7 separate regions of the Homo sapiens genome follow, and regions 1, 2, 3, 4, 5 and 7 are each linked to region 6. Evidence: fine-mapped expression QTL. A gene starts in region 6. Each other region holds a variant in brackets. All regions are shown on one strand. Distances are between the middles of the regions. Region 1 overlaps NEDD4 (NEDD4 E3 ubiquitin protein ligase). Region 2 has its middle 35 kb from the start of NEDD4. Region 3 overlaps NEDD4 (NEDD4 E3 ubiquitin protein ligase). Region 4 overlaps NEDD4 (NEDD4 E3 ubiquitin protein ligase). Region 5 overlaps NEDD4 (NEDD4 E3 ubiquitin protein ligase). Region 6 holds the start of NEDD4 (NEDD4 E3 ubiquitin protein ligase). Region 7 overlaps NEDD4 (NEDD4 E3 ubiquitin protein ligase).

Region 1 (4,069 bases), 68 kb after region 6:
ATTTTTAAAAAATTAGCCGAGCATGGTAGTGCATGCCTGTAGACCCTCAGGAGGCTGAGGTGGGAGGATTGCTTGAGCCTGGTTGCACTGAGCTGTGATCGCACCACTGCATTCCAGCCTGGGTGACAGAGTGAGACTCTATCTCAAAAAAAAAAGAATCTTGTCGTCTTTGTCTGTCTCATTTCCTTAGAGCACGCTCATTCTGCCCCCATGCCTTCTTTTCTCATGTGACCTTGCTGTGCATGTTCTCTATACCTTCTCATTTAAATTCTTCCCAACTTTCAAGTCTTAGCTCAGTTACATCTCCTCAAAAGTTCTTCTACATCTTCTTTGAAAAAAAATCATCTTACACTGTTTTTCTTTTTCTTTCTTTCTTTTTTTTTTTTTTTTTTTTTTGAGACGTAGTCTCACTCTGTTGCCCAGGCTGGACAGTGCGGCGGCACGATCTTGGTTCACTGCAACCTCTGTCCCCCAGGTTCAAGCGATTCTCCTGCCTCAGCCTCCCAACTAGCTGGGGTTACAGGTGCCTGCCGCCACACCCAGCTAACTTTTGTATTTTTAGTAGAGACAGGGTTTCACCCTGTTGGCCAGGCTGGTTTCAGACTCCTGAACTCAAGTGATCTGCCTTCCTTGACCTCCTTAAGTGCTGGGATTACAGGCGTGAGCCACCATGCCCACCCTTTTTTTGGGGGGTGTGGTGGAGGGGAGGGGACAGGTTTGCACTCTGTTATCTAGGCTGGAGTGCAGTGGCACGATCTCGGCTCACTGCAACCTCCGCCTCCCAGGTTCAAACGATTCTCGTGCCTCAGCCTCCTGAGTAGCTGGGACTATAGGCATGTGCCATGATGCCCAGCTAATTTTTGTTATTTTTGTAGAGATGGTCTCCCTATGATGCCCAGGCTGGTCTCCAACTCCTGGGCTCAAGTGATCCTCCCACCTCAGCCTAGGAGTGCTGGGATGACAGGTGTGAACCAGCACATCCGGCCGTCTTAACACTATTTTTCCCTCCCCATGTTGTCTAGCCTTATGTTTGGCATGTCTATCCTCAGTTACTCCATGGTCACAATACGGCTGCAGGAGTGCCAGCTATCCTAACAACATTTCAGACAGGAAAGATAAATGCAAGGGGCAAAAGGGACATCTCTCCCAGCTGAGTCAGCCACCTCTGAAAAGCTCTCCTGAGGAGTGACTGGCACTAGGTTGGCTTCATTGGTTGCCCGTAGGTACAAGGGATACATTTCTAGATAGACATATTCAGGGTCTCCATGTTAAACAATTCCATAGGACACCATTCACAAAAAAACAATATATAGAATAGAACAGAGTATTCAATATCTTTATCTGGGTTTGATACATATACGTATGTATCATATACATGTACAGTATGTATATGTATTTTTACATACGTATATGTATTTTACATACTGTATATGTATATGATACATACGTATATGTATTTTACATACTGTATATGTATATGATACATATGTATATGTATTTTTACATATACATACTGTATGATACAGTATGTATATGTAAAAAGTTATCAAGCTATATAGTTAAGATTAGTATACTTTTTTCTTCCTCATCCCAACATTAGTATACTTTATACTTCATTGAATATGTGTTGTACTTCAGTTTTCAAAAATTAGTGGTTTCCTCAAGAGGTGTGCAGTGTGATGAGCCTGGGAACGTGGCTGTAGGTAAAACTAGGATTATGTTCTCAGAGGGAAAAGTAGACACTGAGTTAGGTATCTAGATATCTTTGTCACAAGCATAGGACTTTTTTCTATCAATAGTTTTGACATGTACACCAATGTTTTAAGATATCACAGTGTTCAATATAATATATATAGTAGGCGATTTTTATTTTGATATCGAAACATTCCCACAAGAATGAAAGCATTGGCTTTGAAAAACAAAATATTGCTTGTAATTTTTATTCATGTGCTACAAAGCTTAAACCTTAAGTGAAAACGCAGTGTATACTTTTGACTGCTATGTACTTTATATAGTAAAAGCAACATGTAATTTTATTAAGTCAATAATAAAAGGATTCACAACACTAGTTTCTGAAAAATGTCCACTTTGGGTGGCTCTAAACTGATTAATAAAAAGCAAGTAAATAAAA[C/T]TGATCATAAGGTGTCAAAATCTAATCTGTATTTATAAGCGTTTGCAAACATTTAAGTAATCTTTTGAAATTTTCTTTTACTTCCTTTCGTTCTGTTAGAAAAATCTGAAAAATAAACAACCAGATTCACTTTGTTGTTGTTGTGAAACTACTAGAAAATGAGTGACACATGACTAGTCTGCTCTTATTTCATGTAATTTTAAAATGCATTCCAAATAATCGGAATTAGAAAATGGCAACTTCTTTTTGTTTGTTTGTTTTGTTTTGTTTTTCTTGAGATGGAGTCTCTCTATGTCGCCCAGGCTGGAGTGCAATGGCACAGTCTTGGCTCACTGCAGTCACCACCTCCCAGGTTGAAGCGATTTTCCTGCCTCAGCATCCCAAGTAGCTGGGACTACAGGCACATGCCACCATACCTGGCTCATTTTTGTATTTTTAGTAGAGACGAGGTTTCACCATGTTGGCCAGGCTCGTCTCGAACTCCTGACATCAGGCGATCCACCCACCTCGGCCTCCCAAAGTGCTGGGATTACAGGCATGAGCCACCATGCCCGACCAAATGGCAGCATCTTTAAGCATTTATTTCTGAGTATCTGTGGGTTGATGTTTACTTGTTTTTAAATAAAGATTGTGTTTTTCTTAGGTTCATCCTCAGCAGCACCGGCTTCTTTTTGAAGTGTTTGACGAAAACCGATTGGTAAGTTATATTGTGCTTATATGAAATATGAAGTAAGGGTACATTTCAGTGGAGCAGCCAGGGGAAGTGGGTAAGCAGTCTGGGATTTGAGTGATGGCTTGGGGGTGGTTATGGAGACTCTGGGCAAAATGGTGAGGGAGATAGAATTTGTTTTCTTCCTCCTGGTCCTACTCGCTCCCTTTCCATTCTCCTCCCAAGCACCTCTTCTGATTGCCAACATATTATAAGGTCTTACTCAAGACCTCTTGTGACAGGAGAGGACAGAAAACCAACCTCTTTGTCCTGCCTTCCCTCTCACTCGCCCATGACCCCTGGTTCCTACTCCATGGCTCTGGGAATCTTCCCAGGGTATCCTTCAGTTGCGCCTCCTCACTACAGTGGCCTTTCTTAGGGTTACCTGTATCCAATGGACATCCTATCCACTCTCTCATCCCCACTCTTCTACAGAGGAAATCTGTCCTTTTTACACTGATAAGGAATGAGCAAATAAAGTCTTCTCAAAGATGGCCAGCTCTTACAGAAGCAAAAAGCAAAGTTAAACCTGATGTTCTTTTTATAAAATGATTGTTCTGATTTCTGAATTCCTAAAGACTCTCTTAAAGTCCTATCCTTTTCCTAATTTTGTCTCTGAGGATCCAATCTCAAACCCTCATCTTAGCATCTTACATCTATATTTTAAACCTGTAAGATTTGAACAGGTAAGTATAGAAACAGTGTTATGTGTGCAAAGCTTATCAGTTACAAGCACCAGAAAAATTAAACAGTTTTGTTCATTTTTTAGCTAACAGAGAAACTAGCTTTTTTTTTAAAAAAAAGTCTGTTTTTAGTGTTAAACTACATTCATGTTTTTTTTGCCCTCAAGAAATGGTAATTATACTGGCAACTAAAGATATTGCCAATGAAATCTTTAATAAACATCATACTAAGCAAAAGTACATTATTGCTGCCAAAGAAGACTATCACTGACTTGCTATATATATATATATTTTTTTTTTTTTTTGAGATGGAGTCTCGCTTTGTCGCCAGGTGGGAGCACAGTGGCTCAGTCTCAACTCACTGCAACCTCCGCCTCCAGGGTTCATGCAGTTCCCCTGCCTTAGCCTCCCTAGTAGCTGGGACCACAGGCGCTCACCACCACACCTGGCTAATTTTTGTGAATTTTAGTAGAGATGGGGTTTCACCATGTTGGCCAGGATGGTCCTGATCTCCTGATCTCGTGATCCGCCTGCCTCTGACTCCCA
Region 2 (4,069 bases), 35 kb before region 6:
TTGTTAAAGGGTCTTAACAGCTCAAAACATAAAAAAGTAAACCAAAAGACATTCCAATACTTACTAATTAAATAATGCAAATTAAAATCTTGCATACTTCTATACACTTTATAATTTGGCAAAAGTAAACAAAATGCTAAAACTGAACTGTTTTGAAGTGTATGGGGAGATAGGCATCGTTAACAGTAAATGATGAGACTTTTCTGGCACTGAGAAAAGCAGACACAGGAGCAACAAGGCAGCTCTGTTGCAGAATTCCAGGGAGCACCATTTATGCTGCATCCTATATGAAGGGTGCCTCCTGGAACTGGGCATCAATGTGGTCGCCCCAAAAGTCATAAAACCATTCAGAACTTTTTTATTCTCACAATCTCACTTTCAAAAACATGTTCAAGGGGAATAATTCAATACAGAACAAAAAGTTAACCACACAGAGCTACTGATTCATAATGGAGAAAATATGGAAACAATACAAGGATGAAAAAATCTGAAAAATATCAAATGAACTATTCTAGATTAATATTAGGAAGCTTGCTGGGTGCAGTGGCATGCACCTATAGTCACGGCTACTTGGAAGCTGAGGTGAATCACCTGAGCCCAGGAGTTCCAGGCTATAGGAGGCTATACCAACCGGAGGTCTACACTAAGTTTGGTATCATATGGTGACCTCCCGGGTATAGGGAAATCACCAGGTTGTCTAAGGAGGGGTGAACCAGTCAAAGTCAGAAATGAAGCAAGTCAAAACTCCTGTGCTGATCAGTAGTGGGATTACGCCTGTGAATAAATAGCCCCTGCAATCCAGCCTGAGCAACATAGCAAGACCCATTCTCAAAAAACAAAGCAAGAAACAAATAAATACATATTAGGGTGCTCTTTACATGATCAATAGATAGCTTATGCTACATGAAAAAGTATAAGTAAAATAATACTAAATTTTAATCATTAACTTAGGTAGTTTTAAGCACTGTGTCATTTTTAATTAGCTTAGGCAGTTTTAAGATTGTGTCAGTTTTCTCAAAATATTTAAGCAATGTTTTAAAAAATTAGGACATTAGATATTTAAACATTATTGTACAAAAATGAAGCATCTGCTGCTGCTCAGCTGTTTGGAATTAAATATTTGCAGGTTTGACACAATTCATATCAACATTAATTAAGAAGGCAAGATATATTGGTTTCATATTGTATTACAAATGCAGAGATAATAGAGAATATTTTGAATGCTGGCAAATGTCAGAAAGAATATTACTGAGAAAAGCAGTGAAGGGTAAGAATAGTAAAGGGGAAAAATAATTTGAGAAGGTCAAATCAGTTTTTCATGATTCTTATTGATGGAACAAAAACACTGTGTAAAAGAAGTTAGCAACACCTGTCTTTTTTTTTTTTTTTCTACAGGATTTTACTCTGTTGCCTTGGCTGGAGTACAGTGGCATGATCATAGCTCACTGCAGCCTCAAATGCTTGGGCTCAAGCAATCCTCTTGCCTCAGCCTCCCAAATAGTTATGACTACAGGCAAGTGCCACCATGTCCAGTTGTTTTTTATTTTTTATTTTGTCAATATGGTGTCTATGTTGTCCAGGCTTCATATCACATATTTTTAGGAGTGGCAAGAGAGCCCTTGACAAGATAAATAAGTATTCTATTAAAGCTTCCTCATTTATGATATGTGTGAAATGTAAATACTCCTGGGTGGTGTAACACTGTAAGTCATACTGGTTATTGTGACTAGGCTAGTAAGATTTTTTCAAGACACTAAGTGATAGACAGTAGGTATTGATAGCAAAGTGTTTACAGGCATTAAAACCAGATTGTACATATTCAGATGAAACTCTACTCAGGTGGAGAAAGTATGCAAGAATGCAGAAAGGAGAGGAAGAGTCAAGGAATGTGTCTACGTTATAATATTTCTAGGACACTCCTTGGATGTGAGTCACATCAGCAATCTACAAGGTAGAACCAACGTTACCAGCAACCAGAACATGTGAAGTGGGAGGGCCTGATATCAGGGTCCTTGTGTTATTCTGAATGAGAGTAGAAAAATGGTTACTTTTGTATTTTAAGTATATAATACATGTTAATGTATTAAAGGTAACTATCAAAGGAATAAAAATAAGATTTATAATTAGCTGGGCATGGTGGCATGTGCCTATAGTCCCAGCTACTCAGAAGGCTGAGGTGGGAGGATTACTTGGGCCTGGGAGGTCGAGGCTGCAGTGGGCTAACATCACATCACTGCACTCCAGTTTGTGCAACAGAGTGAGACTCTGTCTCAAAAACAAAAACAAAAATAAGATGTATAACTTCCTAAACAGTTGAGGGGAAATGAGGAAAAAAAAACAAAACAAAATATGTTCAATCAATAAGCCAGTCACAGTAAGAAACACAGCTCCCCAAATCCTAAATAAAATATTAATAAACTGAACCCAGCAATGAGGAGGGATGGAGGCAGATTTTGAGGCCAACAGAGCATCAAACA[A/G]TAGTCGCTTCATTCATTCATTATTTACTGAGTAACTGGGTTGTGCCAGGCACTGTTACAAATACCAGGGATATAATGGAGAAAACAGGCAAACATCTCTGCCACCTTAAAGTTACTGATAATATTCAAACTAGGGATCAACACAACAAACAAATAAGCAAAATACACAGTATGTCAGATGGCAATCACTGCTATGGAGAAAAATAAGGCAGGGAAGGAGGTAAAGGAACAGAGGAACATGACTGTAGTTTTACATAGTGTTATCAGAAATATGCAGAAAGTGATGTTTGAGCAAAGACCTGGGAATTGAGGGGTATATGTAGACATATGTGTGTAGGTTTACATATATAGATGTGTTTATATGTAGATACGTATATTCATAAAATCTACATGTAGACATGTATATATGTGGAGATCTATTAGTACATATGTAGACAAAACTATGTCAACATAGGGATATACGTCGACATCTGTGAGAAAGAACTACCCAGGCAGAGGCAGAGGAATGAACAAGTGCAAAGGCCCTGAGGTGGGAGTGTGCCTGGAGTGAGCAGGAGCAGGAAGAGCTATAGGAGATGTGGGCCCTTGAAAGGACTGTAGTGTTTACTTGGAGGAAGATGGGAATTTTTCTGAAGGTTTTAGGTAGAGAAGGGGCATAATCAGACTTACATTTTTAAAGGATCATTACAGTTGCAATTTGAGAATCAACTATAGAGAGGCAAGTGTGGAAGCAGAGAGACTGGGAAGGGATCAGTGACTCAATCCAGGCAACAGAGGATGATGACTTAAATTCAGGTAGCAGAGATGGTTAGAAGTTGTCAGATGCAGAGTATATTTTGAAGGAAGGAAGAGCCAATAGGATCTGCTAAGAGATTTAATAGAATAGATGTGTGTTATGAGAGTGATTACAAATGATTATAAGTTACCCTAGATCAAATAGGGTTTGTATCAGGAATGCAAGGAGAACCTAATAATGTTGTTTACCAAATTAGCAGATTAAAGGAGAAGCACAATATAATCCTCTTATAGATGCAGAAAAAAATACTAATTGACTCAAGTGAAATGATGTACTATGCTTATTAGCCAACTGAACAGTCTGTGATTTGGTTGATAGGAAATGAGCAAATGATGGGGGGGATATTTCTCAAGGATATTTAAAATATATTTTTTAGGCCAGGTGCGGTGGCTCACACCTATAATCCCAGCACTTTGGGAGGCCAAGGCGGGTGGCTCACGAGGTCAGGAGATCGAGACCATTCTGGCTAACCCAGTGAAACCCCATCTCTACTAAAAATACAAAAAAACATTAGCCGGGCGTGGTGGCGGGCACCTGTAGTACCAGCTACTCAGGAGGCTGAGGCAGGAGAATGGCATGAACCTGGGAGGCAGAGCTTGCAGTGAGCCGAGATCACGCCACTGCACTCCAGCCTGGGCAACAGAGCAAGACTCCATCTCAAAAAAAAAAAATTTAAATCCAATTACTAAATTTAAAGATGGCAAGTTAGGCAAAGTTTTAAAAAAAGCTTAGGCAAACTTGGGATAGAAGGAAAATTGCTTGCCTTTGTAAAACATAGTTATAAAAAATGTATAGT
Region 3 (4,069 bases), 170 kb after region 6:
CCAAAGAATCATTTAAAAGTAAAGTGACTTCTAAGAGACAAGGAAGTAGGAACATTTCTGATATTAAATATATAAATAATATGGATACACATGTGTATATCTGTATATGGATCTTACCATCATAATTCATTTTCTTCATATCAGCAAAGTAATAGTAATGTGGGCCAATGCATTTTGGAAATGTCCTCATTATGTAGAATGGAATGTGAAAATTATTTTTGTTAAAACAGGATTTTGCCACAATTATTTAAATATTATGTTTGTGAACTATCTAAGCATGAGAAAATACAAAGCTTTCTTTGTATCTGGCTGATACTCATTTGGATGATTCTGTGACTCATAGAACATGATGTTAAATGAGACCAGACTCAACTGCCACCAGTCCCCAGCTGCAGACCTTCATCCCCTTCATCTCCCACTAGGGGCTCGTGGTCTGGAAGAAACATCTATCAAGCAACACAGCCCCTTATCCCAGATAGAAAAGTGTCTCAAATGCATTCTACTGCGGGACAGTCAGTAGGATCATTTTCATAAAGCAAGGACATCATATGTTTCTAGAAATTACAAGCATATAACTTTAGCCTACAATCTCTTATTAAAAATTTTTAACAAAATTGTATTACAAATGCATTTCATCAGAACTCAAATTTAAATGGTGTTTGTTTTGGGTTTTTATTTATAATGCTGAAGTTATTCCATATAAGTATCAAGTTAAACACAATTCATTTTGATTATAAACTATTTGACTTTTTAAAATCTTCTGACACAGTAAATATATATATCAAGATTGATGTATCAAAATTTATTGCACACTTTAAAGTGTAAAATCATTTTTTAAAATCTTGAATCCACAAATAAAGTTCTATTCTGATTTTAAAAAACAAAACAAAACTGTGGTTCATTATAAAATAGGAGTGTTTCCAAGTCAGTATGCTGGGTGATGTCTTCTGGTCTAGTTCCTCACAGCAGCACGTTAAATTTTCAGTGCAATCCTAAACTTATTACCTGATGAACTAACATGATTATAAACTCTCAACCACAGATAATTAATTTCCACTTTACAAAAAGGTCGTATTGCATAAGTCTGGTTGTTAGTGAAATAGCCAGAAGATAAAAATAATAGCTAAAAATGGACTGGATTTCAGGCACCTTGCTGCTCATCAAAGAAGCCATTCTTGTAGCCAACCACTATTTACAACATCATTTCTATGAGAAAAAGAGTTCGGAGTGTTAATTCAGAACGAAGTGTCTTTTCCTCCTTCCTCTCAGGCATGAGAATTAGTTTCCCAGTTAGAAGGGAATCCACTCCCACCCACTCAAGCCAGCCTGGGAAGGTGCTGTTCCAGCCCCCTGTTTCTGCCATAATCCAGGCCATAGCTTTTAATTTTGGGGACCTAGGCCATGGCCCTCTGCTTCCACGTTTCCTGTTCTAGCCAACTCGGGCAGCAGCTAGCCCACAGCATGCCCCACCTGTACAAGAAGTCCTTGCTTTGCTGTCCATCACGGCAGACATTTATTTTATAAATGATATTAAACTAAGGTATTAGAATGTCAGTACCTCATTATGAAGAAAGAGACTTAGTAGATTTTTGTCTTTTTCCTTGAAAGTTAAAGCCTATCACACTAGCCTCCTCTTTCTGTTCCGCTCATCTCTTCCCCTGCAATGCATCCTATGCAGTCCCTCCATCACAATCAGTGTTTCCTTTTTAGCACACAGATTTGATCAGGTTACTGTACCGCCAAAAAACCTGAGAGCTCCCCAGAGCCAAAAGCATGAAGCACAAACCCGTTAGCATGGAGGTTCGCATGGAATGCAGTCCATCCTCAGCCTAAGGTCTCAATTCCACCTTCCATCATACCTCACTCAGGTGCCCTTGGTTCCCCTCCAAATCAGAGTCCTTCCAGCCCCTAATCACTGCAGACTCCGGTGCCACCTGAATGCTTTCACTTCTCATGTCTACTTGGTAAGTCACTCCACTTTCTGGACACAGTGGAACGGTGCTGTGGCCTCAGCAGTTGGTATATACTAGTGCGGATGACACTGCATTACAATTCTTTGTTTACATAATTCTGTCCTACAGACTTCTGGGCAGTTTGAGGACAAAGACAATTATGTATCCATCTTTTTCATATGTTCATTTCCCAATGCAAATATTTGACGAATTTGAGCTTAAAAGTACTGTTTGTGTATAGAATCCATTTAGGAGCATGGTGTGCCTGGAACTGCAATAATGTGCAGGAGCTCTGTA[G/T]TTAGGTGGACATTGGGGACTACGTAAATATTCAAGCAGAGAGGGAGCTTGATTGAGATCCTGCTGAGTGCTGGATTCTGCAGTAAACACTTTATGTGGATCTCATTTAATCTTCATAAAAACTCAGTGAGACAGGTTTTATAGGCTCAAGGACAAGTAATACACCTAAGGCCACACAGCTTGTAAACTCAGTGGATTTATGAACCACAACAAAGAAAAGCTATGGAATCCAACAAATTACCAAGATGTATCCGTTTTCTTGGGCTGCACAACAAATTGCCATAAACTTAGCAGCTAAAAACAATACCCATTTATTATCTCAGATTTCTGTAGGTCACAAGTGTACATGGTCTTAGCTTAGGGTTCTCTGCTCAGGGTCTCACAAAGCCAAAATCATGGTGTCTGGGCTCTTGCCTGCATCCAAGATCTTTCCGATTATTGGCAGAATCCAGTTCCCAGTAGCTGCAGGTCTGAAGTCCTTGTTTTCTTGCTGGATGGCAGCTGGGGGGCACTCTTAACTTTCAGATGTCACCCACATTCCTCATGGATTGGCCCTCTCTCCCTCTTCAAGCCAACAATGCCTCTCATGCTTCTAATCTCTGATTTCCCATTCAGCTGCCCTTTTCTGCCACCAGACGGAGAAAGTTCTCTGTGTTCCAAGATTTATTTGAATAGATCAGGCCCACCTGAATAGTCTTCCTTTTTGGAAATTGACTGTACTGGCCAGGTGCAGTGACTCACGCCTGTAATCCCAATACTTTGGGAGGCCAAAGCAGGCAGATCACCTGAGGTCAGGAGTTTGAGACCAGCCTGACCAACATGGCGAAACCCTGTCTCTACTAAAAATACAAAAATTAGCCAGGCGTGGTGGCGCGTGCCTGTAATCCCAGCTACTTGGGAGGCTGAGGCAGGAGAATCACTTGAACCCGGGAGGCGGAAGTTGCAATGAGCCAAGATCGTGCCACTGCACTCCAGCCTGGGTGACCAGAGCGAAACTCCAACTCAAAAAAAAAAAAAAACACGAAAAAACCATCTCAGAGAAAAAAAGAAAATTGTACCATAGGCGCAGAACACAGTCATGGGACCAAGATCTTATCACGTTCATAAACAGCATAGATTAGGAGGATGAGATATTTCCTAGATCATTACTAGAAAATCCTGCCTTCCACACAACATAAAGGCTAAGGATAGAAAAGTTAAAGATTATGGAGGTTCACCTTGAAAAACACTTATGTATATCTAATTTTATAATGTGCGTTCATTTTTCCACTCTTTGTCAATGAAAGGCCAGCTAAATAAACTAATGCTAACAACAGCCGGTAAGATTCCACTTCAGCAGCTATAAATTCACAAGTCACTACTCTCAGATGAGCCATCAATTCATATTTTTCTCAATACCAGAAGGTTGCATTGGCCTGAAATTATATTCAACTCATCCTTACAATCTTGCTTCTTATACAAGCAGAAATGAAAAGCCATAATTGCTCCTTTTATTGGGAAGGTTGGTGTCTTTCCAGTGAAATCATGGTCAGGATTATAAGGTGGGTCCAAATCAGACTACAGCCATGATGGGAAGAAAGCAGTTCACAGCCCAGAGCTGCTGAACATTCTCTGCAGATGTGTTTAGAACTGCTTTAAATCTCTGGAGAGATGTGCAAGGGAGGGCCTCCAAACGCCCAAGTAAATGAAAGTTCCTGTGCAATCACATGACCCTGGAACAAAGTTTTTTCTCCTGGTGAAATTAACCAAAGATTAAAGCCATAACTATAGGCTCATGAGTTATACTCTATTCATTATTTAGGTCCTGACTTAAGTTCTCT
Region 4 (4,069 bases), 36 kb after region 6:
ATTAGATGGTGCCCACCCAGATTGAGGGTGTGTCTGCCTCTCCCAGTCCACTGATTCAAATGTTAATCTCCTTTGGCAACACCCTCACAGACACACCTAGGAACAATACTTTGCATCCTTCAGTCTAATGAAGTTGACACTCAATATTACCCATCACAGAGAGGTGGTTACTGTGGCTTATTTCTGCAGTCCTTTGGGGGTATGGGGTCAGTGGAGCAAGTCAAGTAGGTTGAATCTGGTTGTTTCTTAGGGAGATGGTTACCAGGAGGCAGTTGTGTAAGGTAGTTATCTGGATTGACCACATTGAGGAGCTGAGAGGAGGTAGAGAACTGGAAACTGTGCTAAGGGTGACTAAGACCTGCTTCTGGTATAAAAATGTCCAACTTAACATTCATTATGGATGCTGAGGCAACATAAAATTATAGGAATTCACTTCAGCTGTCATTAAGGTATTGGTAGGGCTGTGGTCTTAGCTGAGGCTTGCTTAGGGAAGGATTCACTTCCAAGCTAATGTGGTTGCTGGTGGCATTCAGTTCCTTGCATGCTGCCAGTCTGAGCGTTTCCATTTCTTACTAGCTGTCAGCTGGAGGCCGTCTCAGCTTCTTGCCATTCAGCAGCTCACAAGCTGCCAGTTTGCTTCTTCAAAGCTAGCAAGAGTCTCCTAGCAAGATGGATTACAATCTTATGTAATGTAATCACATACTTTTTGTCACATTTGCCATAATCTGTTGGTTAGAATATATAGATCTGTCCCATGCTTAAGAGGAGAGGAACACAAAGAACATGAATATTAGGAGGTGGGGATAATAGGAGCTGCCCTAGTGTCTGGATGCCACAATATTCCGGGCCTTGAAACAATAAACCACATTCTTTTGAAATGCACATGGTACGTTAATCAAGATAGACCATGTGTGGGTCCATAGGACAAGTTTCAGAGGTTTTCAAAAGATTGAAATCATATAGAGGATGTTCTTTGAGAACAGTGGAATTCAATTGGAAACCAATAATATTAAGATCTAGAAAAACTGCAGATATTTGGAATTTAATTAGTATACTTCTAAATAATCTATATGTCAAAGAAGAAAACATTTTGAACTGAATGAAAATGAAAATACAGCAATATCACAATTGTGGAATGCAGCTAAAGTTATATTCAGAGGGAAGTTTATGTCTTTAAAATGCTTAACTTAGAAAAGGAGCAAGATATAAATGAATGTTTTGAGTTCTGACCTTAATAAATTAGAAAAAGAAGAGCGAATGAATTCTAAAATAAGTAGAGGGAAGAAATAATAAAGACAAGGGCCAAAATCAGTGAAAGAGAAAGTGGACAATGGTAGAAAAAAAATTATTGTAATCAAAAGCTTGTTATTTGAAGACATCAATTAAAGTTTTAAACCTCTAGCTAGAATGATCAAGAGTTAGAGAGAAGGCACTAATTACTGGTAATGAGAATGAAAACTGGGGCATTGCTATAGACCCTGTGGAAATGAAAAAGATAAAAAGAAAACATTTTGTACAATTTTGTATCAGTAAAGAAGTACACACAATTTAGTGAAGTAGATAATATTCTTGAAAGACACAGATTTCAGAACTAGCCACAGAACAAATACAAAACTTTAATAGATGTTTATTATTGAAAGAAATTGAATTTGTTGTTAAAAGAAATTGAATTTGTTGTTAATTAAATTGAATTTGTCCTTCCCACAAAGAAAACTCCAGGCCCACATGATATCACTGGATGCAGCTATCAGACATTTAGGGAAAAAAAAATAAAAATTCTACACAAACACGTTCAGAAAATGGAGGGCATTTCCCAACTCATTTTATTAGGCTAATATTATCTTGATCCCCAAACCAGACACAGACATCACAAGAAAACTTAAAACCAATATCTGTCAACATAGATGCAAAAATGAAATTAAACATTATGTAGCAATATATCACCACTTAGGATTTTTCCTACAAATGCAAGGTTTGTTCAACATTAAAAAAATTAATTAATGCAATTCACTGTATTAATACAGTAAAGTAGAAAAAACACATGGTCATTTCACTTGGCATGGAATGTGCCTTTGACAAAATGTAACACCCAGTCATGATAAAACCTCTCAGCAAACTAACATAAAATACAAAGGTGGCTTAACATCTGAAAATTAACTGATGTAATACACTGTATTAATAGAATAAAAGAA[GACA/A]GTCATCTTTTTTTTATTATACGTTAAGTTCTAGGGTACATGTGCACAATGTGCAGGTTTGTTACACATGTATACATATGCCATGTTGGTGTGCTGCACCCATCAACTCATCGTTTACATTAGGTATATCTCCTAATGCTATCCCTCACCCCTTCCCCCACTCCACGACAGGCCCTGGTGTGTGATGTTCCCCACCCTGTGTCCAGGTGTTATTGTTCAGTTCCCACCTATGAGTGAGAACATGCGGTGTTTGGTTTTCTGTCCGTGTGATAGTTTGCTTAGAATGATGGTTTCCAGCTTCACCCATGTCCCTGCAAAGGACATGAACTCATCCTTTTTTATGGCTGCATAGTATTCCATGGTATATATGTGCCACATTTTCTTAATCCAGTCTATCATTGATGGACATTTGGGTTGGTTCCAAGTCTTTGCTATTGTGAATAGTGCCGTAATAAACATACATGTGCATGTGTCTTTATAGCAGCATGATTTATAATCCTTTGGGTATATACCCAGTAATGGGATCGCTGGGTCAAATGGTATTTCTAGTTCTAGATCCTTGAGGAATCGCCACACTGAGAAGACAGTCATCTTAATAAAAGCAGAAAACACAACTGACAAAATTCAACACCCATTCATAATAGACACTCTCTGCAAACTAGGAATAGATGGAAATGTCCTAAACCTCATCAGGGGTATCTATGAAAAAACCCAGTAGCTAACCACCTACTTAATGGTGGCAGTTTGAAGCCCCTCTACTTAACTCAGGAATAAGGCAAAGTTGTCTGCTTTCATGTTCTATCCAACATTGTACTATATATTTTAGCCATGTAGTATGGCAAAGAAAAAAAAATCACACAGTCAAAAAGGAAGAAGTAAAACTGTCTTTATTTGCAGACAACATGGTTTGTACGTAGAAAGCCCCAAGGAATCTACAGAAAAAACTACTGGAAGAACTAATAAATGAATTTAACACCACCACAAAATGCAAAGTCAGTGTTTGTATAACCCAAAATCAGTTATATTTCTGTATCCTATCATTGGGCCATTGGAAAATACAATTTAAAAACGTGTTTACAATTGTATAAAAGTTAAATATTTAGAAATAAATACAACAAAAGATTTGTAATAAATGGACACTGAAAACTATAAAACAGTGCTGAGAGAAGTCGAAGACAACATAAATCAATGGATACATATGCTGTTTTCATTAGAAGACTCAATAGTGTTAGGGTGGCATTTTTCTCCAAATTGATTAGATTTGGCACAATCCCAATAAAAATCTCAGCAAGTTTTTTCAGAGAAATTGATAAGCTGATTTCAATATTTGTATGGAAAGTCAAGGCACATAGAATAGCCAAAACAATTTCAAAAAAGAACAAAATTGGAAGACTTACATTACCCCATTTCAAGACTTGCTACACAGTTATAATAAGACAGAGTGGCAGTGGCATGAGAATAGATATATTGTTCAGTGGAATGGAGAGTGTAAAAATACATGCGCATGTGTGTGTGAGAGAGCGAGAGAGAGAATATATACACATATATATGATCAGCTCCTGTTTAACAAAAAATGCTGAGGTAATTCAAGGGAAAGGGTAGTCTTTCAGTACACAGTACTAGAACAACTGGTCTGTATAGAATGAAATGAATCTTGGTCCTTACCACACATCATACAGAAAATTAGTATGAGCTAAAATGATAAAACTTCTATAGGAACACATAGGAAAAAAATCTTTGCTCTATTGGGTTACACAAAGTTTACGTGAACAGTACCAAAAAGGATGAGCCATAAAAGAAAAATGTTGAAAGGAACTTCAACACAATTAAAACTTTTCTTCTTTAAGAAACAAGGTTACGGAAAATGCAAGCCA
Region 5 (4,069 bases), 58 kb after region 6:
AAGGATAACTAGATAAATTTGTGTGGATCAATGCTAATTCATTATGCTTAGAAAAAAACTGAAAACATACGGTGAAATATCTTCTGTGCAAAGGACATTATTATGTGTGGTCCTCTATTTTCCTCTTTGTCATTTATATCATCATTTTTATATAGCCCAGAATGTTTTGAACTGAATGTATTCGCCATAAAAATGTCTGTTGAGATAACATATTACAGCAAAAACTTGGTTCTTGGGCATTCGGCCAAATGGAAATTGTGGTCAGAAGTTGAAGGCAGTTTTATATCTTTGAGAAAACATGAAGTTCAAAAAAAGTTTTTGTGAAAAACTGTTATTGACAACACAAACGGGAAACTCCAAGTTGAAGTTAGTGCTCAATAGCAAATTATGGCCAGGCACGGTGGCTCATGCCTGTTTTCCCAGTGCTTTGGGAGGCCGAGGAGGGTGGATTGCCTGAGGTCAGGAGTTCAAGACCAGCCCGGCCAATATGGTGAAACCTCATCTCTGCTAAAAATACAAAAATCAGCTGGGCATCATGGCGCATGCCTGTAATCCCAACTACTCAAGAGGGTGAGGCAGGAGAATCACTTGAACCTGGGAGGCAGAGGTTGCAGTGAGCCGAGTTCACACCATTGTGCTCCAGCCTGGGTGACAAGAGTGAAACTCTGTCTCAAAAAAAAAAAAAAGAAAAGAAATAGCAAATTATAATTAAAATCTACACTTTACATGCTTAGAGGGAAAAAAGTGCAACACATTAGGTGCAATGCACATGTTATTTACTCTGTGCATAAGAATTGTGCTTGGGCATCTGAAAAAGCCTCACCCCATTTCCTACATTCTGCAGGTGCTCTGTGTATATTTTTAGCATTCATACTCAATATATTAGATTTATGTAATGTATATATATGCAAGTGTATGTTTATATTATGTTATAGAAGTAATATAACTTATGCAAGATAGTTTTTTTAATAAAGAGAAATGAAAATCAGCCATAATTTCATCTCGATAAACCACCACTGATAATATGCTTTTCTGGGATTTCCTATGTGTTTTTTTTTCTTTTGTATTTTTATGGATAGGGGGAAAAAACTTACCTACATACGCACACAAATTTGGCGTGATTTTTTTCTATACCTATTTCTCAGGCACTTTGCTATGATTGTTAATGAGATGGCCACAGTACCTACCCTCAATGAAACTTACTGTCTAGTATGGACCAGTGTGAACAGGTAACTCATAATTATTACCAGTGTGCTGAGCTTTATGGAAGGGAAAACAATGATACCGGAGAGTAAATACAGGGTTGGGGGATCACTTAGTCTAGGAGGTTTAGGAGGGACCCCTCTGACAAAGTGTATCATTTAGGATGCTTTTAGCTTCAAGTTATAGACTTGAAGTAGCAATGAAAACTGCCTTCACAATAAGCACACTGATTAGCTTTAATCATAAGAAGCATAGAAGAAGGTTGGTCATTGCAGCAGGTGAAAGAAGTCATGCTTGACCCAGCTTCTCTGGGATTCTCTTGGCTTTCTCTCTGTGGTCACAGATACTTACAGCAGTTCCAAAGACATGATGATGTCCAGAGGCTGAAAAGGGAGAGCTTTTTGCTGAGTATCTTTTTTTTTTTTTTTTTTTTGAAACAGAGTCTCACTCTGTCGCCAGGCTGGAGTGTAGTGGCACGATCTCAACTCACTGCAACCTCTGCCTCCCGGATTCAAATGAGTCTCCTGCCGCAGCCTCCCGAGTAGCTGGGACTACAGGCGCATGCCACCACGCTTGGCTAATTTTTTGTAGTTTTAGTAGAGACAGGGTTTCACTGTGTTAGCCAGGATGGTCTCGATCTCCTGACCTCATGATCCGTCTGCCTCAGCCTCCCAAAGTGCTAGGATTACAGGCATGAGCCACC[A/G]CGCCCAGCCTTTGCTGAGTATCCCTTTAAAAAAGTAAAAAACCTTTTTCCAGAAGACTTTGGATCTTTTTCTCTTGGGCCAGAATTGTGTAATGTGCATATTTCCTACCCCATTGTTGGTGAGGAAAATGGTGTTACCCTAAGGCTTAGAGGAATCAAAATTCAGCCCCTGGGAGAGAGGAGTTGCTGTCTATCCCTGACAGACATAGTCACCCAATATTTGAATAAAATTATAATTCTTTTAGCTAGGAAGAAGGCAGGACACCCCATCAGTGGAGCAGTAAGTAAATTATGATACATTCATACAACGAAATCCTAATCTACTGTTTAAAAAGAGGCAGGTTTATATGTTGTTATAGATAATTCATTTCAGATTATACTAAATGAAGCAAGAAAAATGCAGAACAAGGCCAGACATGGTGGCTCATGCCTGTAATCCCACTACTTTGGGAGGCCGAGGAGGGTGGATCACCTGAGGCCAGGAGTTCAAAACCAGTCTGGCCAACATGGTGAAACCCCATCTCTACTAAAAATGCAAAATTAGCCAGGCATGGTGGTGGGTGCCTCTAATTACAGCTACTTGGGAGGCTGAGGCAGGAGAATCACTTGAGTCTGGGAGGCAGAGGTTGCAGTGAGCCGATATTGTGCCACTGCACTCCAGCCTGGGCAATAGAGTGAGACTCCATTTCAAAAAAAAAAAAAAAAAAAAAAAAAAGCAGAACATTGTATATAGGAATATATTATTTGTGTAAAACCAGAAAAATTTTTAATAAAATAAAATTTTAATAATAATAAAATTTCTTATATGCTGGTATTTTTAGAAAATAATTCTGGAAGGACCTAAGAAACTGTTTACTGTATTTGCTCTGGGGGTGGGACAAAGGTAAGACAGAGATTTATAATTTACTATATATCCTTTTTTACTGTTTGGGTTTTTTCTCCGTGGCCGTATATCTACAGTTTATTTTTATATTTATTGATTAAACTATTTGCATAAAGAAATAAAGTGGAAAGACATAAAACATTTAAATTAAAATGCCGGAATACTTTCTATTCATATATTGTTTTATGCTTATGAAAATACTTGTCTAATTCACTTAACTTTTTACACTTTTACAGTGTTATTAAAATATATGCACAGAAAACTTGCGCACCAATGTTCGTAGCAGCATTATTCATAATAGTCAAAAATTAGAAACAGCACAAATGTCCATCAACTGATAACAAAATGAGATATACACATATAATGAAATATCATTCATCAATAAAAAGGAATGAAGTATTGATACAAGTTACAACTTGGATGAACCTTGAAATCATTATACTAAGTGAAAGAAGCTGTATTAGCCCATTCTCACACTGCTCATAAGATATGCCTGAGACTGGGTAATTTTTTTAAATTATCATTATTATTATTATTTTGAGACAGAGTTTCACTCTTGTTGCCCAGGCTGGAGTGCAGTGGCGCAATTTCGGCTCACTGCAACCTCCACCTCCTGGGTTCAAGCTGTTCTCCTGTCTCAGCCTCCCAAGTAGCTGGGATTACAGGCGTGTGCCACCACACCCAGCTAATTTTGTATTTTTAGTAGAGACGAGGTTTCACCCTGTTGGCCAGAATGGTCTCGAACTCCTGACCTCAGGTGACCTGCCTGCCTCGGCCTACCAAAGTGCTGGGATTACAGGTGTGAACCACTGCCTCCAGCCAAGACTGTGTAATTTATAAAGGAAAAAGTTTTAATTGACTCACAGTTTAGCATGGCTGAGAAGGCCTCAGAAAACTTACAATCATGATAGAAGGGGAAGCAAACACATCCCTCTTCACATGGCAGCAGCAAGTAGAAGTGTCAAGAAAGAGGTGGAAAACCCCTTATAAAGCCATCAGATTTTTTTTTTTATACTTTAAGTTCTAGGGTACACGTACACAACGTGCAGGTTTGTTACATATGTATACATGTGCCATGTTGGTGTGCTGCACCCATTAACTCGTCATTTGCATTAGGTACATCTCCTAATGCTATCCCTCCCCCTTCCCCCTCCCCCCACCCCACGACAGGCCCCAGTGTGTGATGTTCCCCTTCCCGTGTCCAAGTGTTCTCATTATTCAATTCCCACCTGTGAGTGAGAACATGCGGTGTTTGGTTTTCTGTCCCTGTGATAGTTTGC
Region 6 (4,069 bases):
ACACACTCAAACCAAATCAACATGAACCTAATTGAAGGCAGCCTAGGTAGACAAAACGCCTTCATGAGAGTTCTGCGCAGTTGAGTGATATGTAGAGGAGTTCTTCATTCTAAACAGCTTTCTCAGTGGTGGTTGGTTATTGGACCACCAGCTGATATCACCATCCCGATTTGAGCTTCCTTTAATTTCAGGTGCCCCTCCTAGCTGTTGACCGGGATACAATAATTACTCTAGTTCATCTTGTATTGGTAGCTGTTTAATTCTTCATGATTTCATATTCGGAAAGACAGAATAAGAAATCATGAGTCAAATCAGTGGTCTTTAGAAGTATCATCACTAATACCTATTGGATACATCAAATGGCCAATTTGCTTTACTTTATAATCCCTTGGGGATTTACTGATTTTTTTTTTTTTAATTACCAGTTTTAGGCTGTGTATACTTCTCATATATTCATTAAATTTTAGTAGCAGTAACGGAAGCTGTTTTTACACGTTTGTAATTGTGCCCTGAAATGACACTGAATTAACTTAAATTCAAATGACTTAACTAACTTAAAATTAAACATAAAAATGTGTATCATGAGAGATGAGGGAAATATTCGCAAAATAGAAGGGCACACAATATTTTCAGATTATTTTATTCTTAACCCACAAATCCCACAGATATGTGACAACTTAAAAAACAAATTAATGCTCTCATGGCTTTTTCGATTTAGGTAAGCCAACAATTCCTGACCATTCTGTAATTTTGTAGTCATGTTTGATTAAGTGCCATCTCTTTCCCCCTAATACGGATAAAATCTGAATTGTGTATTAACAGAATTTTGATACATATTATATGAATGAAATGGATCCTACCAATCATAAAGTACGACAATTGAGGTGGAGTCTTGTTCTGTCGCCCAGGCTGGAGTGCAACGGCGCAATCTTGGCTCACTGTAACCTCCTCCTCCCAAGCTCAAGCGATTCCCTTGCCTCAGCCACCCAAGCAGCTGGGACTCCAGGCGCCCGCCACCACGCCCAGCTAATTTTTGTGTTTTTAGTAGAGACAGGGTTTTACTATGTTGGCCAGGTTGGGCTCGAACTCCTGACCTAAGGTGATTCACCGCCTTAGGTTTCCCAAAGTGCTGGGATTACAGGCGTGAGCCACCGCGCCCGGCCAAGTACGAGAAAAATCTTACGTAACAAACCAGTAATATGGGCTATAGCCTTGTTCCCACGTAGCATCTTAAACTGTTAAAAATAAATCAGAGTTATTCTGAAATCATTGAGGAAAATAAAAATTAGATTTTGAGATTGCAGAATTCTGCAAATTTCTGCAAATGTATAAAAACAACATGATATAAATTGTGGCCTGGGTGTTCATAATTCTCCCCAGACTCTTTTATGGATGCCTTATTTGGTGGAGGTCTTCCTGTAATTATGGAATTATAAAGCCCATCAGACAGGAATATTAAAAAGCATGATTATTCCATAACCTTATTCCACAGGAGGAGTTATTCCACAGGAGGAGTTATTCTACAGGAGGTCCTAGTTCACTTTATTTTTCCCTCTTCGTCACTGCCTTCTGGTGGTGCTGCGGATCAACGCCCAGCTAAAGCAGGTTTAGAGGGTCAGCCTGGAGATTGGATTGTTACTGGTGGGATTTAAAGATGGACAGACCATAGGACAACAAATAGCTTAGGAACTGGCACTGTTTACAAATCCTAGGGAGAGAATTTCAGATCCCGAGTCCAAGACTGCTGCGATCCCTCCAGGCCTCCCCATTTGCTGCCACGCTCAGGCTTTCCCTGGCGGTCCCCAGGTCCAGCTTCTTATGGGAATGACACCCTTAACCGACAAGAAAGCGCTATGATTTTCCGTTTGGGATTTAAGCGGGGATTAAGCTCACGGATTCCCAGGCGTCTAGTCAGAGGCCGAACTCTGGGTCGGATCTCAGCGAGACTTGTTGCTGAGGAACACTGCAGCTTGGCTTCCCGGCGCTTCCCGGCGCTCCCTGGCTCCCCGGCGGGCCCGTCAACCACCCACCTCCCGGGAAGGGACCGAGGGCGCGCCCCGCCACGCGCGCTCCCCACGCCATGGTCCCCGCCGCGCGCGCTCATCCCACCCGAGCCCCGCCGCACGCCCTCCCCACTCCCCGAGCCCCGCCACGCGCGCCCCCGCCCAGCCCCAGGAGCGCGCGCCGCCGGCCTTTTCCCGCCGCGCTGCCGGGTGCCGCTAGTGCCCGCTCGCCGCGGGAGGCGCTGCTGTCGCTGAGGGAGCGCCTCCTCCTCTTCCTCCAACTCTTCCCCGCCTCCTCCCGCTTCTCCTCCTCCTCCTCCACAGTTGCCTGCCCTGGGCGGGGGCGAGCGCGTCCGGTTTGCTGGAAGCGTTCGGAAATGGCAACTTGCGCGGTGGAGGTGTTCGGGCTCCTGGAGGACGAGGTGCGGGGACCGCGGGGCTGCGGGGCGGGCTTCCCTTCGGGTTATTCAGCAGCCGGACCCGGGGAGGTAGCGGCGGCGGCCACGACCGGAGGCTCTGCTGTCAGCCCCTCCTCCCTCGGCGCGAGCCTGGGGAGCGCGCGAGGCGCCGCGGGGACTGTGGGGGCGGCTCGGCGCGCGGGCGCTGGGGGCTCGCTGGAGGGAGCAAGCTTGTCGGGTCCACACCCGCCCCTTCCCGGAGCGGCCGCCGCCTTACTTGTCAGTTTCCTTCAGGAAGTGTTGAGGAGGGGGCTAGGCGGTCGGCGGGGGACCCACATCACCGCGCCAGCCCCTTCCTGCCACCCCCGCCGGGTGTGCGGAGCTCCCAGGCGTTGGGAGACGGTCGCAGCATCCCCGCTGTTGATTTGCTTGCTCTGGCGGAGGCCGGGCCGACTTAACTTTACGGACTTCGGTCTGGAGAGTTCCAAGTGAATTGTCATTCGCTGGTTTGTTTTTTTCTTCTTTATCTGAAATCCTTTTTAATCCCCTAACTAGAGACAGGGATGGGAGAGCAGGAACATAAATTTTCCTCCTCCTCTTTAGCAACAAGTGTCTAGTGTGAGAAGTTCATGCTTTATTTCACCGGTCGTCGTTGATGTTAAAAAGTGAAGCCAAAAAAGTATAAATACTTTATAAAGAAGTTACCACATCTGTTCCCTTTGAAAACTAGATTAAGCTCTGGGATTTGAAGAAGGCAAAGCTGTTTCTTTTCAGCTAAATAACTAATGCTGATTATGCCTATGCTTATTAAAAATATTGTACGACCATTTGGAAAGGTTGTTCCGTCGTAAATGATATGTGGCTTCTGTGTGTTCTTGGAGATTGTCTCAAAAATGCAAATGGGTGGGAGATGAAAAGGCTGCATGTAGTCTAACAGTGACTGGTTCCGAGTGAAAAAAATCAAGTTTTTTGCTTTCTTGTTGGCTGACTAAGCTGCCACATGTACCTTTTATCAAGATGAGACCCAGTTAACTGAAAATCCATCAACCTAATTTATACTGCTTGCTTAAGTATTGTAATATTTAAGTTGTATAGTTCCTTCTCTTAGTACCTTGGTGTCGTCAAACATTTTACACTTCTCTTGAGAGTTCTTTGTTTATAAAGGGTGGGCAATTTGTTAATGCAGTTATTTCAGGATATTTTGAGAATGCTTACGTGATGCGATTAGAATTTAATTTCCTAGCTATTGCTGCCAGAAGAGAAATAAAGTGATGATGGACAAATGGTGGCGGCTCATAGTCCCTCAGAAACAATAGTCAATGTGTTACAGCTAAAGATATCATTCTAGCTAATGGCACCTTTATTCTGTAGACGAGATCAGAAGATAATACAGCACTTCACCTGTGGTCGCTTTCTTATCAGTCAGATTTCCCTGCTTGCTACGTAGACTGCCCAGTGCAGTTGACTTCAAGGTGGTGTCCAACCCAATCAGGCTGACCTTGGACTTTCTTTCCCTGCTATATTCACAGGTAGGCCCTGCTAATTGCAGATTTCTCATCTCACCGCCTTCCAGCAGAGCCAGTTGATCTTAAAGAAAATAGTGCCAAAGGTATCATTCACCATCTGTTTTCTCCCTCTTGGTACATGATCAGTGTTTTTAATTATCTA
Region 7 (4,069 bases), 49 kb after region 6:
TTGAATGTGTTTGCTCTTGCTTCTCTAGTTCTTTCAATTGTGATGTTAGGGTGTCAATTTTAGATCTTTCCTGCTTTCTCTTGTGGGCATTTAGTGCTATAAATTTCCCTCTACACACTGCTTTAAATGTGTCCCAGAGATTCTGGTATGTTGTGTCTTTGTTCTCATTGGTTTCAAAGAACATCTTTGTTTCTGCCTTCATTTCGTTATGTACCCAGTAGTCATTCAGGAGCAGGTTGTTCAGTTTCTATGTAGTTGAGCAGTTTTGAGTGAGTTTCTTAATCCTGAGTTCTAGTTTGATTGCACTGTGGTCTGAGAGACAGTTTGTTATAATTTCTGTTCTTTTACATTTGCTGAGGAGTGCTTTACTTCCAACTATGTGGTCAATTTTGGAATAAGTGTGGTGTGGTGCTGAGAAGGATGTATATTCTGTTGATTTGGGGTGGAGAGTTCTGTAGATGTCTGTTTGGTCCACTTGGTGCAGAGCTGAGTTCAATTCCTGGATATCCTTGTTAACTTTCTGTCTCATTGATCTGTCTAATGTTGACAGTGGGGTGTTAAAGTCTCCCGTTATTATTGTGTGGGAGTCTAAGTCTCTTTGTAGGTCTCTAAGGACTTGCTTTATGAATCTGGGTGCTTCTGTATTGGGTGCATATATATTTAGGATAGTTAGCTCTTCTTGTTGAATTGATCCCTTTACCATTATGTAATGGCTTTCTTTGTCTCTTTTGGTCTTTGTTGGTTGAAAGTCTGTTTTATCAGAGACTAGGATTGTAACCCCTGCTTTTTTTGTTTTCCATTTGCTTGATAGATCTTCCTCCATCCCTTTATTCTCATGAGCCTATGTGTGTCTCTGCACATGAGGTGGGTCTCCTGAATACAGCACACTGATGGGTCTTGACTCTTTATCTAATTCGCCAGTCTGTGTCTTTTAATGGGGGCATTTAGCCCATTTACATTTAAGGTTAATATTGTTATGTGTGAATTTGATCCTGTAATTATGATGTTCACTGGTTATTTTGCTCGTTAATTGATGGAGTTTCTTCATAGCATCGATGATCTTTATAATTTGGCATGGTTTTGCAGTGGCTGGTACTGGTTGTTCCCTTCCATGTTTAGTGCTTCCTTCATGAGCTCTTGTAAGGCAGGCCTGGTGGTGACAAAATCTCTCAGCTTGTCTATAAAGGGTTTTATTTCTCCTTTTCTTATGAAGCTTAGTTTGGCTGGATATGAAATTCTGCATTCAAAATTATTTTCTTTAAGAATGTTGAATATTGGCCCCCACTGTCTTCTGGCTTGTAAGGTTTCTGCTGAGAGATTTGCTGTTAGTCTAATGGGTTTCTCTTAGTGGGTAACCTCACCTTTCTCTGTGGCCGCCCTTAACATTTTTTCCTTCATTTCAACGTTGGTGAATCTGACAATTATGTGTCTTGGGGTTGCTCTTCTCGAGGAATATCTTTGTGGTGTTATCTGTATTTCCTGAATTTGAATGTTGTCATGCCTTGCTAGGTTGGGGAAGTTCTCCTTGATATTATCCTGTAGAGTGTTTTCCACCTTGGTTCCATTCTCCCTGTCACTTTCAGCTACACCAAACATAGAGTTGGTCTTTTCACATAGTCCCATATTTCTTGGAGGCTTTCTTTGCTTCTTTTTATTCTTTTTTCTCTAAACTTGTATTCTCACTTTATTTCATTAATTTCATCTTCAATCAGTGATAGCCTTTCTTCCACTTGATTGAATCAGCTACTGAAGCTTGTGCATGTATCACAAAGTTCTTGTGCCATGGTTTTCAGCTCCATCAGGTCATTTAAGGTCTTCTCTACACTATTTATTCTAGTTAGCCATTGGGCTAACCTTTTTTCAAGGTTTTTAGGTTCCTTGCAATGGGTTAGAACATGCTTCTTTAGCTTGGAGAAGTTTGTTTTTACCGACCTTCTGAAGCCTACTTCTGTCAACTCATCAAAGTCATTCTCCTTCCAGCTTTGTTCTGTTGCTGGCGAGG[G/A]GCTGCGATCCTTTGGAGGAGAAGATGCGCTCTGGTTTTTAGAATTTTCAGCTTTTCTGCTCTGGTTTCTCCCCATCTTGGTGGTTTTATCTACCTTTCATCTTTGACGTTCGTGACATACAGATGGGGTTTTGGTGTGTATGTCCTTTTTGTTGATGTTGATGCTATTCCTTTGTGTTTGTTAGTTTTCCGTCTAACACTCAGTTCCCTCAGCTGCACATCTGTTGGATTTTGCTGGAGGTCCACTCCAGACCCTGTTTGCTTGGGTATCACCAGTGGAGGCTGCAGAACAGCAAATATTGCAAAACAGCAAATATTGCTGCCTCATCCTTCCTCTGGAAGCTTTGTCCCAGAGGGGCACCTGCCTGTATGAGGTGTCTGTTGGCCCCTACTGGGAAGTGTCTCCCAGTTAGGCTACACGGGGGTCAGGGACCCACTTGAGGTGGCAGTCTCTTGTTATCAGAGCTCAAATCCCATGCTGGGAGAACCACTGCTCTCTTCAGAGCTGTCAGATAGGGACATTTAAGTCTGTAGAAGTTTCTGCTGCATTTTGTTCAGCTATGCCCTGCTCACAGAGGTTGAGTCTATATAGGCAGTAGGCCTTGATGAGCTGAGGTGGGCTCTGCCTAGTTTCAGCTTCCCGGCTGCTTTGTTTACCTACTCAAGCCTCAGCAATGGTGGACACCCCTTACCCCACCAGTCTGCAGACTGGCAGGTCGATCTCAGACTGCTGCGCTAGCAGTGAGCAAGGCTCTGTGGGCATGGTACCCGCCAATCCAGGCATGGGAGAGAATCTCCTGGTCTGCCAGTTGATAAGACCATGGGAAAAGCACAGTATTTGGCCAGAAGTGTCCTGTTTTTCCAGGTACAGTTTATCACAGCTTCTTTTGGCTAGGAAAGGGAAATCCCCTGACCCCTTGCACTTCCGAGGTGAGGCAATGCCCCATCCTGCTTCGGCTTGCCCTCTGTGGGCTGCACCCACTGTCCAGCCAGTCCAAATGAGATGAACCAGGCACCTCAGGTGGAAATGTAGAAATCACCCGTCTTCTGCGTCAATCATACCGGGAGCTGCAGACAGGAGCTGTTCCTATTTGGCCATCTTCCAATCATTACATCTTAAAGCTCCAAAATAATCTCCTTTGACTCTGTGTCTCACATCCAGGCCACACTGATGCAAGGGGTGGGTTCCGAAAGGCCTTGGGTGTCTCCACCCCTGTGTCTCTGCAAGGTACAATCCCTTCAGCTGCTTTCACAGGCTAGTGTTGAGTGCCTAAGGGTTTTGCAGGCAAACAGTGCAAGCGGTTAGTCAATCTCCCATTCTGGGGTCTGGACGATAGTGGCCTACTTCTCACAGCTCCACTAGGCAGTGTCCCAGTGGGAACCCTGTGTGGGGACTCCAGTCCCACATTTCCCATCCACACTGCCCTAATAGAAGTTCTCCATGAGGGCTCTGCCCCTGCAATATCCAGACTTCTGTGTGGATATCGACACATTTCCATACATCCTCTGAAATCTAGGAAGAGCTCCTAAGCCTCAGCTCTTGCCCTGTGCCCACCTGCAGGCTTAAAACCATGTGAAAGCCACCAAGACTTACGGTTTGAACCTTCTAGAGCAGCGGCCTGAGACATATCTGGGCCCTTTTACCCACAGCTGGAGCTGGAGTGGCTGGGACTCAGAGAGCAGTGTCCCAAGGTTGTGTAGGGCAGCAGGGCCCTGGGCCTGGTCTATGAAATCATTCTTCCCTTCTAGTCCTCTGGGGCTGTGATAGGAGGAGCTGCCACAAAGATCTCTAAAATGCATTCAAGGCATCTTCCCCATTGTCTTGGCTATGAACATTCAGCTCCAGCAGCTGGCTTGAATTCCTCCCCACAAAATGGGGCTTTCTTTTCTACCACATGATCAGGCTGCACATATTCCCAACTTTTATGCTCTGCTTTCCTTTTAAATATAAGTTCCAGTTTCAGATCATTTCTGTGAATGCATATAAGCATATGGTTAGAAGCAGCCAGGCCACTTCTTGAACACTTTGCTGCTTAGAAATTTCTTCTGCCAGATACCGTAAATCAT

What was found. PIP is the estimated chance that this variant, and not a neighbour inherited with it, causes the effect.
Region 1: its variant is the best candidate, but not a certain one, in a credible set for the expression of NEDD4 in whole blood (INTERVAL, PIP 0.66).
Region 2: its variant is the best candidate, but not a certain one, in a credible set for the expression of NEDD4 in whole blood (INTERVAL, PIP 0.88).
Region 3: its variant is the best candidate, but not a certain one, in a credible set for the expression of NEDD4 in thyroid (GTEx, PIP 0.83).
Region 4: its variant is the best candidate, but not a certain one, in a credible set for the expression of NEDD4 in whole blood (INTERVAL, PIP 0.52).
Region 5: its variant is the best candidate, but not a certain one, in a credible set for the expression of NEDD4 in monocytes (TOPMed, PIP 0.59).
Region 7: its variant is the best candidate, but not a certain one, in a credible set for the expression of NEDD4 in whole blood (INTERVAL, PIP 0.55).

Annotation. Positions count from the first base shown.
Region 1 is chr15:55,923,405-55,927,473 of GRCh38, reverse strand. It overlaps NEDD4 (NEDD4 E3 ubiquitin protein ligase), which reads left to right. Exons shown (of 29, transcript NM_006154.4): 5 at 2,775-2,828. Among named protein-coding and RNA genes, the nearest start is that of NEDD4, 68 kb to the left of the region's middle. The variant C/T (reference allele first, on the strand shown) is at 2,132.
Region 2 is chr15:56,026,446-56,030,514 of GRCh38, reverse strand. It overlaps the pseudogene RN7SL568P. Among named protein-coding and RNA genes, the nearest start is that of NEDD4, 35 kb to the right of the region's middle. The variant A/G (reference allele first, on the strand shown) is at 2,478.
Region 3 is chr15:55,823,739-55,827,807 of GRCh38, reverse strand. NEDD4 (NEDD4 E3 ubiquitin protein ligase) reads left to right here. Exons shown (of 29, transcript NM_006154.4): 29 at 1-886. Among named protein-coding and RNA genes, the nearest start is that of PRTG, 83 kb to the right of the region's middle. The variant G/T (reference allele first, on the strand shown) is at 2,250.
Region 4 is chr15:55,956,260-55,960,328 of GRCh38, reverse strand. All of the region lies in intron 2 of NEDD4 (NEDD4 E3 ubiquitin protein ligase), which reads left to right. Among named protein-coding and RNA genes, the nearest start is that of NEDD4, 35 kb to the left of the region's middle. RefSeq lists a silencer at 2,282-2,459. The variant GACA/A (reference allele first, on the strand shown) is at 2,193.
Region 5 is chr15:55,933,413-55,937,481 of GRCh38, reverse strand. All of the region lies in intron 4 of NEDD4 (NEDD4 E3 ubiquitin protein ligase), which reads left to right. Among named protein-coding and RNA genes, the nearest start is that of NEDD4, 58 kb to the left of the region's middle. The variant A/G (reference allele first, on the strand shown) is at 1,907.
Region 6 is chr15:55,991,867-55,995,935 of GRCh38, reverse strand. NEDD4 (NEDD4 E3 ubiquitin protein ligase) reads left to right here and starts at 2,324. Exons shown (of 29, transcript NM_006154.4): 1 at 2,324-2,425. The coding sequence starts at 2,381. RefSeq lists silencers at 1,118-1,315, 2,102-2,201, 2,442-2,791 and an enhancer at 2,294-3,076.
Region 7 is chr15:55,943,057-55,947,125 of GRCh38, reverse strand. The region is part of intron 4 of NEDD4 (NEDD4 E3 ubiquitin protein ligase); the gene reads left to right. Among named protein-coding and RNA genes, the nearest start is that of NEDD4, 49 kb to the left of the region's middle. The variant G/A (reference allele first, on the strand shown) is at 2,003.